Homo sapiens: one gene and its partner. The protein of the gene in region 1 interacts with the protein of each later gene in a biochemical or structural test. Each region holds a gene or a part of one and is shown in the gene's direction. Other genes may lie near its edges.

What was found. Proteins that work in one complex are often made in the same cells at the same time.
Region 2: the proteins of RNF8 (region 1) and MAGED1 form a complex in vitro, tested with the Homo sapiens proteins (one study listed by BioGRID).

Annotation. Positions count from the first base shown.
Region 1 is NC_000006.12:37,350,123-37,356,997, forward strand, and holds the start of RNF8 (E3 ubiquitin-protein ligase RNF8), read left to right. Parts: upstream 1-3,860; 5' UTR 3,861-4,042; coding exon 4,043-4,153; intron 4,154-6,875. UniProt on the Homo sapiens protein: E3 ubiquitin-protein ligase that plays a key role in DNA damage signaling via 2 distinct roles: by mediating the 'Lys-63'-linked ubiquitination of histones H2A and H2AX and promoting the recruitment of DNA repair proteins at double-strand breaks (DSBs) sites, and by catalyzing 'Lys-48'-linked ubiquitination to remove target proteins from DNA damage sites.
Region 2 is NC_000023.11:51,896,615-51,902,876, forward strand, and holds the end of MAGED1 (melanoma-associated antigen D1), read left to right. Parts: coding exon 1-463; intron 464-593; coding exon 594-657; intron 658-932; coding exon 933-1,012; intron 1,013-1,180; coding exon 1,181-1,272; intron 1,273-1,499; coding exon 1,500-1,579; intron 1,580-1,670; coding exon 1,671-1,713; intron 1,714-1,966; coding exon 1,967-2,029; intron 2,030-3,567; coding exon 3,568-3,682; intron 3,683-4,938; coding exon 4,939-5,316; 3' UTR 5,317-5,324; intron 5,325-5,531; 3' UTR 5,532-5,740; downstream 5,741-6,262. UniProt on the Homo sapiens protein: Involved in the apoptotic response after nerve growth factor (NGF) binding in neuronal cells. Inhibits cell cycle progression, and facilitates NGFR-mediated apoptosis. May act as a regulator of the function of DLX family members.

The DNA of each region.
Region 1 (6,875 bases):
AAATCAACAGGGGAGGAGAGACAAACTCCTGTGCAGAATTCCATACAGTTTCTGTAGAGAACCTGCAGTTAAGGAAATGGAGCATAATTCCTCACTCCTTAAATTTGGCCCAGGAATAGTGACTTCATTCCAAAGAGTACAGTGTGGAAAACGAGAAAAAAAACGAGTAAGTTTAGGCTGGGCGTGGTGGCTTACGCCTGTAATCCCAGCACTTTGGGAGGCCAAGGTGGGCAGATCACCTGAGGTCAGGAGTTCGAGACCAGCCTGGCCAACATAGTGAAACCCTATCCCTACTAAAAATACAAAAATTAGCCAGGCATAATAGCATGCAGCTGTAGTCCCAGCTACTCAGGAGGCTGAGGCAGGGGAATTGCTTGAACCTGGGAGGTGGAGGTTGCAGTGAGCTGAGATTACACCATTACACTCCAGCCTGGGCCAATGAGTGAGACTCCATCTCAAAAAAAAAAAAAAAAAAAAAAAAGGCCTGGCACAGTGGTTCACGCCTGTAATCCCAGCACTTTGGGAGGCCAAGGTGGGCAGATCATCTGAGGTCAGGAGTTCAAGACCAGCCTGGCCAACATGGTGAAACCCCGTCTCTACTAAAAATACAAAATAAGCCGGGCGTGGTGGCTCATGCCTGTAATCCCAGCTACTCGGGAGGTTGAGGCAGGAGAATCGCTTGAACCCAGGAGGCGGAGGTTGCAGTGTGTCGAGATTGAGCCATTGCACTCCAGCCTGGGCAACAAGAGTGAAACTCTGTCTCAAAAAAAAAAGTAAGTTTACAGTGGAGAAACCTGACAAACACTACCTAGATTTCCAAAGCCTAATTTCCTAACCATGGTTGCAATCCCAACCTGGAACGTTTTATCTGTGTGGTACTGTCATATCAAGAAATAAGAAATGCCAGGTGATCGAGATGAACACCAACAATGATAGTTCATGTTGATAACACGTACCCTGGATATGATGCCATGAGAATGACACTTTACCTATGTGGTCTTCCATCCCCAAATCCATAACCCCAGTCTAATCATGAGAAAAACATCAGACAAATCCCAGTTGAGGGACATTCTACAAAATATCTGTCTGGTACTCCTCAAATTGTCGAGGTCATCAAAAACAAGGAAAGTCTGAGAATCTATCACAGCCAAGAGGAGCCTAAGGAGACACACAGACTAAATGTCAGGGTGGCTTCTAGGTGTGCTTGCTGTTCCTGGGGTAGAATGCTAAGGTGGGGTGGGGGCACCAACAGATACCTATGCACAGCTTAGGGAAGCATCTCCATGAGTGCAGCTATGACTTTCACCAAAGTTCCTGGCCCTCTGTGATGTCAGGGCCTGCATTTCTTGATCTGACTGCACAACACAGATAAAATGTTCCAGGTTGGGATTGCACCCATGGTTAGGAAACTAGGCTTTTGAAACAGACTTGAATTGACATCCTACTCTGCCATTTCATTTGTTACTTTGGGAAGATTACCAAAACCTCTCTGTGCCTCTTTTCTCATCATCTCTAACATAGGGATTATAATTGTAACCACTAATAACTGGCTAATTTTTCTTTTTTCTTTCTGTTTGCAAAGGACAAATAAAGTATGTAGGGTGCTTCGCCTAGTACCTGGCACTTAGCACTCAGTAAATGTTAGCTATTTACTATTGTACACTGTGTAATTCATTTAGTGTATGTATTTTCTTTTCTTGTTGTTTTGTTTGTGTATTTGTTTTTGAGACAGAGTGTTGCTCAGTCACCCAGGCTAGAGTACAGTGGTGTGATCTCAGCTCACTGCAACTTCTGCCTCCCAGGCTCAAGGGATCCTCCCACCTCAGCCTCCCTGGTAGCTGGGATTACAGGTGCTCACCACCATGCCCAGATCATTTTTGTATTTTTACTAGAGACAGGGTTTCACCATGTTGGCCAGGCTGGTCTGGAACCCCTGACCTCAGGTGATCCACCTGCCTCGGCCTCCCAAAGTGCTGGGATTACAGGCGTGAGCCGCCACACTTGGCTGTGTGTGTGTTTTTTGTTTTTGTTTTTGTTTTTTTTGTTGTTGTTGTTTTGATGGAGTTTCACTCTTGTTGTCCAGGCTGGAGTGCAATGGCGAGATCTCGGCTCACCGCCACCTCTGCCTCCTGGGTTCAAGCGAGTCTCCTGGCTCAGCCTCCTGAGTGGCTGGGATTACAGGCACACGCCACCACGCTGGGCTAACTTTGTATTTTTAGTAGAGACGGTGTTTCTCCATGTTGGTCAGGCTGGTCTTGAACTCCCAACCTTAGGTGATCCGCCTGCCTCGGCCTCTCAAAAGTGCTGAGATTACAGGCATGAGCCACCATGCCCAGCCCGGCTGGTTTTTTGACAGAATTTTATTTAGGAAAATTGTTTTCCTTCTTTCCCCTTGTGCAAAAAAAAAAAAAAAAGAGAGGAAGAAGGGAGGAAGGAAGGAAGGAAGGAGAGAAAGAAAGAGAGAGAAAGAAGAAAAGAGAAAGAAAAAAGAAAAGAAAGAAAGAGAAGGAAGGAAGGAAAGAAAGAAGAAAGAAATTGTTAACTGGGTGTTGGAAAACTGAAAAGACAAAAGGGGCTCAACCATTGGATGTACTCACTGCAGGCAGCAGCTATCACACTATATGGAAAATCCAAAGGAGAGGCTGAGTTTAAAAACAATTTTTTAATTGGCCGGGCTCGGGGGCTCATGCTTGTAATCTCAGCACTTTGGGAGGCTGAGGCGGTTGGATCACTTGAATCCAGGAGACACGGCGAAACCCGGTATCTACCAAAAAATATAAAAATTAGCCGGGCGTGGTGGCGCGTGCCTGTAATCCCAGCTACTCTGGAGGCTGAGGCAGGAGAATCTCTTGAACCCGGGAGGCGGAGGTTGCAGTGAGCTGAGATCGCACCACTCCAGGCTGCACTCCAGCCTGGGTGACAGGGCGAGACCCTGTCTGTAATCAGTAATAATAATAATAAAATTAACAGCTTTATTGAGTATAATTTACATGCCATAAAATTCACCCACTGGAAGTTTACACTTTCTTCACTTTACAGGGTCTCACTCTGTCGCCCAGGCTGGGATGCAGTGGCGCCATGTCGGCTCACTGCAACCTCTGCCTCCCGGGGTCAGGTGATCCTCCCACCTCAGCCTCCCAAGTAGCCGGACTACAGGTGTGCACCACCACACCTAGCTAATTTTTCTTTTTTTTCTTTTTTCCTTTCTCTCCCTCCCTTCCTCCTTTTTTTTTTTTTTTTTTTGTAGATACGGTGTCTCCCCATGTGGCCAGGTTGGTCACAACTCCTGAACTCAAGTGATCCGCGCGTCTCGACCTCCCAAAGTGCTGGGATTACAGGCGTGAGCCACTGCGTCCGGCCACACTTCCATGACTTTTTAATAAACTTATACAGTTGTACAATTGTCACCACAATCCACTTTTAGAACATTTCTATTACCGCTTTCCTCCAATTTTTTCAAGCCCATCTGCATTCAATACCCGCTCCCACACCTCGCCCCAGGTAACTGTGCTCTTTGTCTTTGTAGATTTGCCTAGTGTAATTTATTTTTTACTTCGGTAATATAAGTAGGTCGTGCAAAATAGAGACTATTTAGCAACAGACTAGGCAGACTTAAATCCGATGGAAAGTTTAAAGTTGTTTAAAAGTGGGCTATAGTTTCACATGACTTTTTTAAAAAGAGGAAAGGTGAGAAGAGGTTCCAGTCTGGGGCGGCTAGGACTGGGGTGATGGTTCTGGAGGCGGCGAGGGAAGGTGTGAGGCGAGGAGACCTCTCGAATCGCGCCCGCCCCGCCCAGGGCCGGATTGGCTCCCAACCCACCCTCTTTGCTCCAGGGCGGCCGCCGTCCTCTTGCGCAGGCGTAGTGCTCCTGCTTCCTGGCCGAGGGCGGGCGAGCGGAGCCTGCTTTCGCAGCGATCGCGAGCGTGTGGCGATTGCTTCTGTCTGTTATTTAGATATGGAAGCTGAGGGGATGCACAGAGGCAGCCAGAACCTAGGTCAGGGTCTCGCTCGGTGCTGACCGCCCCCGGGGTCGAGTAGGCGATGGGGGAGCCCGGCTTCTTCGTCACAGGAGACCGCGCCGGTGGCCGGAGCTGGTGCCTGCGGCGGGTGGGGATGAGCGCCGGGTGGCTGCTGCTGGAAGATGGGTGCGAGGTACGGGGGAAGGGGTCCTGTGGAGCGGAGGGCAGGGGCTGGAGGGAGCGGGGCTCCGGGGAGGGAGGAAGGTGTCTTGCTGGGCTGAATGAATGGCAGAGAGGAGGCGGGCATCAGGAAGAGGAGCGAAGTGTCTGTGGGGGGGGTGGATTCCTGGGGAGAGAAGGGAGAAAGCGGTTCTGGCGCGAGCGGCTGAAGGGTCTGCGGTGGGAGGTGTTTGGGGGAGAAATAGGGGCCGAGTGGGAGAAAGGAAGAAAAGAGAGTTCGGCTCTGGGGAGCCCGGGGGGGCCACAAGGGTTGGGGCGAGGACGGAGGCCCTGACCCGCGGCCTGTGGGGCGAGAAGCGGGCCCCGTCCAGAGAGGCCTGGGTCAGCGGGTAGCTGGGCCGGGGACTGGGAGGAGAGGGACGCGCAGGGAACGTGAGGAGATGCGGGGGTGTCGAGGAGGGGAGGGCGGGGGCTGGCCAGATCCCGTTTAGGGCGCACAGAGCCCCGCGGTGCCAGGTCGGGGAACGGTGGCGGGGGCCGCGAGCTGCCGGGAAGCCGAGGCAGGGCCCGGCGCCTGAACTTTCTCGAGTTTGTTTTGAAAACGATTGCAAATTTTGGGTTTTGTCCCTTAAAGCAATCAAACTTTCACGTAGAAATGTCTTCCTCCTTCCCAACTCTGAGGAACATGGGCGGCTTGGGCTGGGCCACATTTCTCCTGTGAGGCTCGGTACGGCCGAGTGGCACTCCCTGAGGTGGGTCGGGCAGGTATTCAGAGTTCTCTCCAGAGGCTGCCTGTCGTCTTTATTAATGCAGTTGCAAATGAAAAATATTTTAAGGGGAAAGATGAGGTACCGTTCCTGGCACGGTTCAAGATGCACCAGCGTGGTGCATCTTGAAAAGACGAGGGAAGGGAGGAGGGAGTTAGATTGCAATCAGGTTGAGAAGGAGAACTGGGTCAGGGACAAGCTTGTGATGACTGGGAACCATTTGGGTTTTGGAAATAATCTGTATGAAAAGTTCTCTTTGCAGTAAAAGTGGATGGTTGGTCATGATGTAAATTCAAGAAGTATTTTGAGTCTCATGTGTGTTCAGGTAGATTTTTCCTATAAGCCGTACTGCCTCAATTCAGTCTGCCAGGTATTTACTGAGTATTTAACATTGTTTGGTGTACAATGAGGACAAATAAAATTTCTGCGCTCGAAGAGTTTAAGGCTTGAGTGGGGAGAGAGGATTTATACAATGAAGCAGTCATCGTATAAAGAACATCCATATGGGCTGTATGATCAAGTGCTAAGATTTGGATTATTTAGTTCCTTCCCAGAGCAGTAGTTCTTCAAGTCAGAGGAGGAATTCATGTCTAGGCACAAATTTAATTGCTAGATTAGGGAGTGTTATAAAGGGTTACTTGTATGCTGTGGTTTGAGGAACACCAAGAAAACATCTCTGCCTCCAAATACCTCTTCTATCCAGGTATTAGTGCCTAAAAGTCCACATTAAGCATTCATTCTTTTAGCTTGAGCACTGATCTTTCCCTGCCTGGCCCTTTCCAACAGCATATGTTTGTGGGAAGTTTAACAAATTAAAACACGAACACCTGAATAATAACCTGAATAATACACACAAAAATAAATTATTTTTGTGCATAACTATTAGTTAATTTCACATACATTACTTAATCTGATCCCTGCATACACACAACCTCATAAGATAACTCAGTGGGCAAGTGTTATTCCTTTAGATTCAATTGTTGTGGATTAATTTATGACTTCTGAATAGCTTGTCAGTACTGCAGTCTTGGGCAGGTGGGATGGGGAGGACGAATTAAAGCACCTGAAGAAAGGGCAAGAAGACTATAAAGCAGTCTTAGACATATTCTAAACCATTTGATAGTTCTTTATGGGGCCAGTTGCATGGGGAGGGACCCATATAAACTCAGTGGTAAGACTGTGGCTGGCTTCAGGGACCTGTGTGTAGGAGAAGCCTGCCAGGCTTGGCTGCCTGCAAGGTCAGGTCGTAGCATAGCCTGAAAAGAAGTCTGAATCAAAGGCAAGAGAAGAAGTTGTACTTATTGTTATGGTCCCCAAATCATAGCACAAGCTGTTTTGCACAAGATTTTAAAAGATACGCTAATAACATAACAGCAAAGGTAGGTCAGTTCCCTGCCTTTCCAGTTCTTAGTCTCAGATGTTGTGGATAAAATAATAAAACAGGGTTCCTTTCATTTCATTGATGGGAACACTGTAGTAAATTGTCTAATTAAGTGGCTTTAAGCTTGTTAAAGCAATGCATAGAGTTTGGTGGAAAAACAAGTAGAGATTTATTGCAAATTAGCTAGTTCTCAGGTACTATAAAGTATCTAGGCCTTTGGGGAAAACAACAGAACCTTCTCTCCCCTTTTCTTCTCTTGTATTTAGTTTTCATTAAGTTTTCTGCCCCAAGGGAAAAAAGGGAAAGGATGGTTATATTTACTGGTTTGGGGGCTTTTTTGTGGGGTGTTTTGTTTTGAGACAGAGTACTCCTTCTGTCACCCAGGCTGGAGTGCAGTGGTGTGATCACACCTTCACCTCCCTGGTTCAAGTGGTTCTTCTGTCTCAGCCTCCGAAGTAGCTGGGATTACAGATATGCACCACTATGCCCAGTTACTTTTTGTGTTTTCAATAGAGGTGGGGTTTCGCCATGTTGGCCAGGCTGGTCTCGAACTCCTGGCCTCATGTGATCCGCCCGCCTGGGCTTCC
Region 2 (6,262 bases), on another chromosome or scaffold:
TCAGAGCCCTCCAGCTAGGCAGACCCCACCAGCCTGGCAGAACCCAGTCGCTTGGCAGAACCCAGTGATTTGGCCAAACCCAGTAATCTGGCAGAACCCAGTGATCTGGCCAAACCCCATTGTCTGGCCCGGCCCTGTTGTCTGGCCGAATCCACTGGCCTGGCAGAATCCACCTGGATGGCAGACTCCACCTGGATGGCAGACCCCACCGGGCTGGCAGGGTCCTCCAGACTGGCAAGGTCCTCCTGACTGGCCGCTACCACCCGACTGGCCACTGCCACCTGATTGGCCACTTCCCACTGACTGGCCACTACCACCTGACTGGATCCCCGCTGATTGGCCAATTCCACCTGACTGGCAGAACCTGCGCCCCTCGCCTAACCTGCGCCCTTCTCCCAACTCGCGTGCCTCACAGAACCCAGGTGCTGCACAGCCCCGAGATGTGGCCCTTCTTCAGGAAAGAGTAAGAGCTGTAACTCCCCAGTCACTTTTCCCCTCTCTTGCTCTTTTCTTTGTCATCCTCTCATCTGTAATTCAACCAAGTTTTTTTGTAAATATTTTATAAGTTTAATGATTTCCTTTTTCCCTCCCAGGCAAATAAGTTGGTCAAGTACTTGATGCTTAAGGACTACACAAAGGTGCCCATCAAGCGCTCAGGTATGCATCCAGTGTCCCCTCCCCAAGCTCTGCCCTTCCCTTCACTCCATGCTCTGTCAGCATTCTTCTGCTTGTAGCTCTGCCCTTCCCTTCACTCCATGCTCTGTCGGCATTCTTCTGCTTGTATGACCCTTCCCCTTCTATCCCCTCCTTTCCATGGTTGGCTCTTTCCACCCTTGAGGACCTTGACTGTGCTACCCCCAGCAGGGCTGGCAAAGGGACTGCTGCTCTGTGGCCCCCGCTCGGCTCAGATGGCTCCCTCCTCTCTCCTACAGAAATGCTGAGAGATATCATCCGTGAATACACTGATGTTTATCCAGAAATCATTGAACGTGCATGCTTTGTCCTAGAGAAGGTGAGAAGGCAGCCCTGGGGTACAGGAATAATGGGGAAAGTCTTGATTTCAAAGATTCATGGGGTTCCTACTGGGAGTTTAGGGCAAGTCTCAGGGAGATGAGTGTCTGCCTATGGGTAGCTTATGCTAGATGTTGTAATTTCATAGTCTGTTTTCTTGCCCCTGTAGAAATTTGGGATTCAACTGAAAGAAATTGACAAAGAAGAACACCTGTATATTCTCATCAGTACCCCCGAGTCCCTGGCTGGCATACTGGGAACGTAAGATGGGAAAGAAGGTGGAACATGGCCTTTCTCAGTGGTGCTTTTTTTCTAGGAGTTTCACGTAGATCAGGGTCCAGGGTTCAGGGTCACATAGCAGGTCATGGGCAGAGCTGGGGTATAATTCTCCCCTAGCTGAGGAATATTGGGGAGGCTAGATGGGCAAGCTGGTTGGGGTCTCTCATGCAAATGGCTACTGAAAATATATTCTTTCTATATTCCCTTAGGACCAAAGACACACCCAAGCTCGGTCTCCTCTTGGTGATTCTGGGTGTCATCTTCATGAATGGCAACCGTGCCAGTGAGGGTGAGTGGCTGGACCTGCAGCTGGGGGTTGGCCACAGCCTGATTTCCATGCTTATTTTCCGTCCCTTGTCTCCCCTTGCCTCCCATTGCAGCTGTCCTCTGGGAGGCACTACGCAAGATGGGACTGCGTCCTGGGTATGATTGGGCTCTCTCATCTCTTGCCTGTTTGTGCCATCCTTTGGCAACAGTGGATGGTCCCAGGATTGCATTAACCTGGGGGTCTGGAGGGTTTGGTTTGGGGATGTTCAGAGCCCAAAGATGTGACCTGGGTGGATGGGGAAACAGTTCTGAACTCTCTGCCTCTTTTCTCATCTCTGACCTCTGTTCTGGAAAGCTCTTTGGGCATGGTAATAGCCTCTGATTGTGGGTTTCCTTTTTTTACCTTCAGGGTGAGACATCCCCTCCTTGGAGATCTAAGGAAACTTCTCACCTATGAGTTTGTAAAGCAGAAGTAAGTGATGCCTAAGGGGCTTTTCCTGCTTCTTATGATTCTGCCTGTGTGCTGGTCAGCTTTAGAAAGCCCTTCCTGGCTGGATACAATGGCTCATGCCTGTAATCCCAGTACTTTGGGAGGCTCAGGTGGGCAGATCGCTTGAGCCCAGGAGTTCAAGACCAGCCTGGGCAACATAACGAAACCCCATCTCTACAAAAAAATACAAAAATTAGCCAGGCGTGGTGACATGCACCTGTAGTCCCAGCTACTTGGGAGGCTGAGGTAGGGGAGAATCATCTGAGCCCAGGAAGTTGAGGCTGCAGTGAGCTGTGATCATGCCACTGCACTCCAACCTGGGCAACAGAGTGAGACCCTGTCTCAAAAAAAATAAAAGAAAGCCCTTCTCAAGCTCGTTTCTTACACTATACTTGTGCATATGTGTTTCTGTGCATACAGAAACACTTATGTCCTCAGGAGTATTTATTGCATATACTCCTCATGGTTAAATTCTTTATTTTTTATTTTTTTATTTTTTGAGACGGAGTTTCGCTCTTGTTGCCCAGGCTGGAGTGCAATGGCGTGATCTCGGCTCACCGCAACCTCTGCCTCCTGGGTTCAAGCTATTCTCCTGCCTCAGCCTCTTGAGTAGCTGGGATTACAGGCATGTGCCACCACGCCCACCTAATTTTGTCTTCTTAGTAGAGACGGTGTTTCTCCATGTTAGGCTGGTCTCAAACTCCCGACTTCAGGTGATCTGCCTGCCTTGGCCTCCAGAAGTGCTGAGATTACAGGCGTGAGCGACCGTACCGGGCGAATTCTTTTGTTTGTTTTTTTCGAGACTGAGTCTCACTCTGTTGCCCATGCTGGAGTGCAGTGGTGCAATCTTGGCTCGCTTGAACTTCCACCTCCCAGGTTCAAGCAATTCTTGTGCCTCAGCCTCCCGAGTAACTGGAACTTCAGGTGCGTGCCACCGTGCCCGGCTGTTTTTGTATTTTTAGTAGAGATGGGGCTTCACCACGTTGGCCAGGCTGGTCTCAAACTCCTGACCTGAAGCAATCCACCCACCTCTGCCTCCCAAAGTGCTGGGATTACAGGTGTGAGCCACCACACCCGGCCAGAATTTTTCTAATTTTTCTACTTTTCTAAGCAGTTGTCTTGCAAGTGAAGCCCATCCACCATCCCCACAGTAGACATTCCCAAGGCTGGGCCAGGCTGACACTTTTGCACTGCATTGTACTCATTTCAATGGACCTCTGTGGCTCACTGACAAGATTACAAGAATCTGGAGCTAGAGCTGAGGCAGAAGGAGTGAAAGGAAATGTTGTCCTTTCTGTGACCCTATACAAGCCTCGCCTGCATCTCTAGTGAGTGCTTAGCGTTCTAGTGCAGGAATTTAAGGCTTGATGATTAAGGGGTAAATACCCTGATGGTGTTCAGGAATGAGCCCAAGGGGGAGTTGCTATCTGAAATCTGTTAAAAAATGTAAGATTATTTTTCATTAGTGGACTACCATTCTGCCTGGGTAGGTAGACACAAAGACTGTTTTGCTCTTTCAGATACCTGGACTACAGACGAGTGCCCAACAGCAACCCCCCGGAGTATGAGTTCCTCTGGGGCCTCCGTTCCTACCATGAGACTAGCAAGATGAAAGTGCTGAGATTCATTGCAGAGGTAATGGAGGAACTGTTCCAGCATTGATAGGTCAAGGGATGAAGTATAGCTGGCTGGGAAAGGCCCAGGGTAGGAATGAGATCCTAGGTGTGGCAGGTGGTAGGTGCCGCATTGCTGGTGGTATTTGTTGTTGCTGTTAGGTAAACTTAACATGTATTAGGTGCTAACATATGTTAATATATTAGCTAATACAATTATGAGTTTGTTTTGGGTTTTTTTTTAGGTTTTTAAAGTATTTTTATTTTTTCCCAACTTTACTAAATTATAATTGACAAAAATTGTATATATTTGTGGTGTACAATGTAATTTTTAAGTATTTTGTTTTATTTATTTATTTATTTGTTTTCTCCCGAGATGGAGTTTTGCTGTGTTGCCCAGGCTAGAGTGCAGTGGCGCAATCTTGGCTCACTGCAACCTCTGCCTCCCAGGTTAAAGCGATTCTTGTGCCTCAGCCTCCCAAGTATCTGGGATTACAGGCACGTGCCACCACCATGCCTGGCTAAATTTTTATTTTTCTATTAGAGACAGGGTTTTGCCATGTTAGCCAGGCTGGTCTCAAACTCCTGACCTCAAGTGATCTGCCTGCCTCAGCCTCCCAAAGTGTTGGGATTACAGGCGTGAGCCACCGTACCCGGCCCATTCATTTATTTTTAACTGACTAATAAAAAATATACATATTTATGGGGTACAGTATGATGTTTTGATAATACATGTACATTGCAGAATGATTACATCAAGCTAGTTAACTCTCCATAGCCTCATATACTTGACATTTTTTTTGTGATGAGAACATTTAAAATGTACTCTTTTAGCAATTTTAAATAAACGACACATTATTATTAACTATAGTCGTCATGCTATACGGTTGATCTCCAGAACATATTCTTCCTATCTAAATGAAACTTTGTACCTTTTAACCGATATCTCCCTATCCCTCCTGACCCCAGGCCCTGGAAACTACCATTCTACTCTCTGCTTCTATGAGTTAGACGTTTTTAGATTCCATGTATAAGTGAGGTCATGCAGTATTTGTCTTTCTGTGTCTGGCTTATTTCACTTAGCATAATGTCATCCAGCATCATCTATGTTGTTGCAAATGGCAGAATTTCCTTCTTTTTAAAGGCTGAATAGTATTCCATTGTGTGTGTGTGTATCACATTGTCCTTATCCATTCATCCACTGATGGACAGGTAGGTTGATTCCATATCTTGGCTATTGTAAATGGATTTTGTTTTGTTTTCTATTCCTCATCTCAGGTTCAGAAAAGAGACCCTCGTGACTGGACTGCACAGTTCATGGAGGCTGCAGATGAGGCCTTGGATGCTCTGGATGCTGCTGCAGCTGAGGCCGAAGCCCGGGCTGAAGCAAGAACCCGCATGGGAATTGGAGATGAGGCTGTGTCTGGGCCCTGGAGCTGGGATGACATTGAGTTTGAGCTGCTGACCTGGGATGAGGAAGGAGATTTTGGAGATCCCTGGTCCAGAATTCCATTTACCTTCTGGGCCAGATACCACCAGAATGCCCGCTCCAGATTCCCTCAGACCTTTGCCGGTCCCATTATTGGTCCTGGTGGTACAGCCAGTGCCAACTTCGCTGCCAACTTTGGTGCCATTGGTTTCTTCTGGGTTGAGTGAGATGTTGGGTAGGTACATCACTTTGGATTGGGCAGTTAGGGTCTCTGGGGGATATAGGGTCCATGGGGTTGTATTTATGTGCATGAGCTAGAAGTATTAGGAAACTCATTGTAGGGAGATGAGGAAAGTATGGGGCAGCACTCTTTGGTATGTATATTCCTTATTATTTGATATATATCATTGATTTTTTTACTTCTTCTTTCTTATGTTCACAGATATTGCTATCAATCGCAGTAGTCTTTCCCCTGTGTGAGGCTGAAGCCTCAGATTCCTTCTAAACACAGCTATCTAGAGAGCCACATCCTGTTGACTGAAAGTGGCATGCAAGATAAATTTATTTGCTGTTCCTTGTCTACTGCTTTTTTTCCCCTTGTGTGCTGTCAAGTTTTGGTATCAGAAATAAACATTGAAATTGCAAAGTGAATTAGATGTGCTCTCTGCTTCTTTTTTTCCCTATATTTGGGGAGCGAGCAACATGTTTATGTGGGAGAGACAGGACCTCAGCTGTAGTTTGAAGGGTAGATCAGCTTTCAGCAGGTGGAAATGTGGGAAGATCTAGCTACTGGATTGGGATACAAAGGCAGGATCAATGAACACGAGACCCAAGAACTAGTATAGTTTATTCAATAAATATCACTTAAGTGACTCTCATGTGATAGATATGCTGCTAGGTGTCTTGGAGTGACATTGCGAGAAGTCGCATAGTGAGAGAGGGTATTGGTGCTCAGACAGTTGCACTTAAGAACACAGAGGAGGTGGAGCTCCAGGTGATGATAAGGTCCAGAGAGTAGGTAGTTGAAGGGGACAGAAGGTGACTATTCTGGAGATAAGGGGTCCATGGCCTGTGATTCTAGGGTGTTGGTTATACAACCCATGTGGAAAGTGAAAGAACTCCAGGAGGGCAGCAGGAGTAGGAGTAGAGAACACTATGAGTTAGATGCCAGAG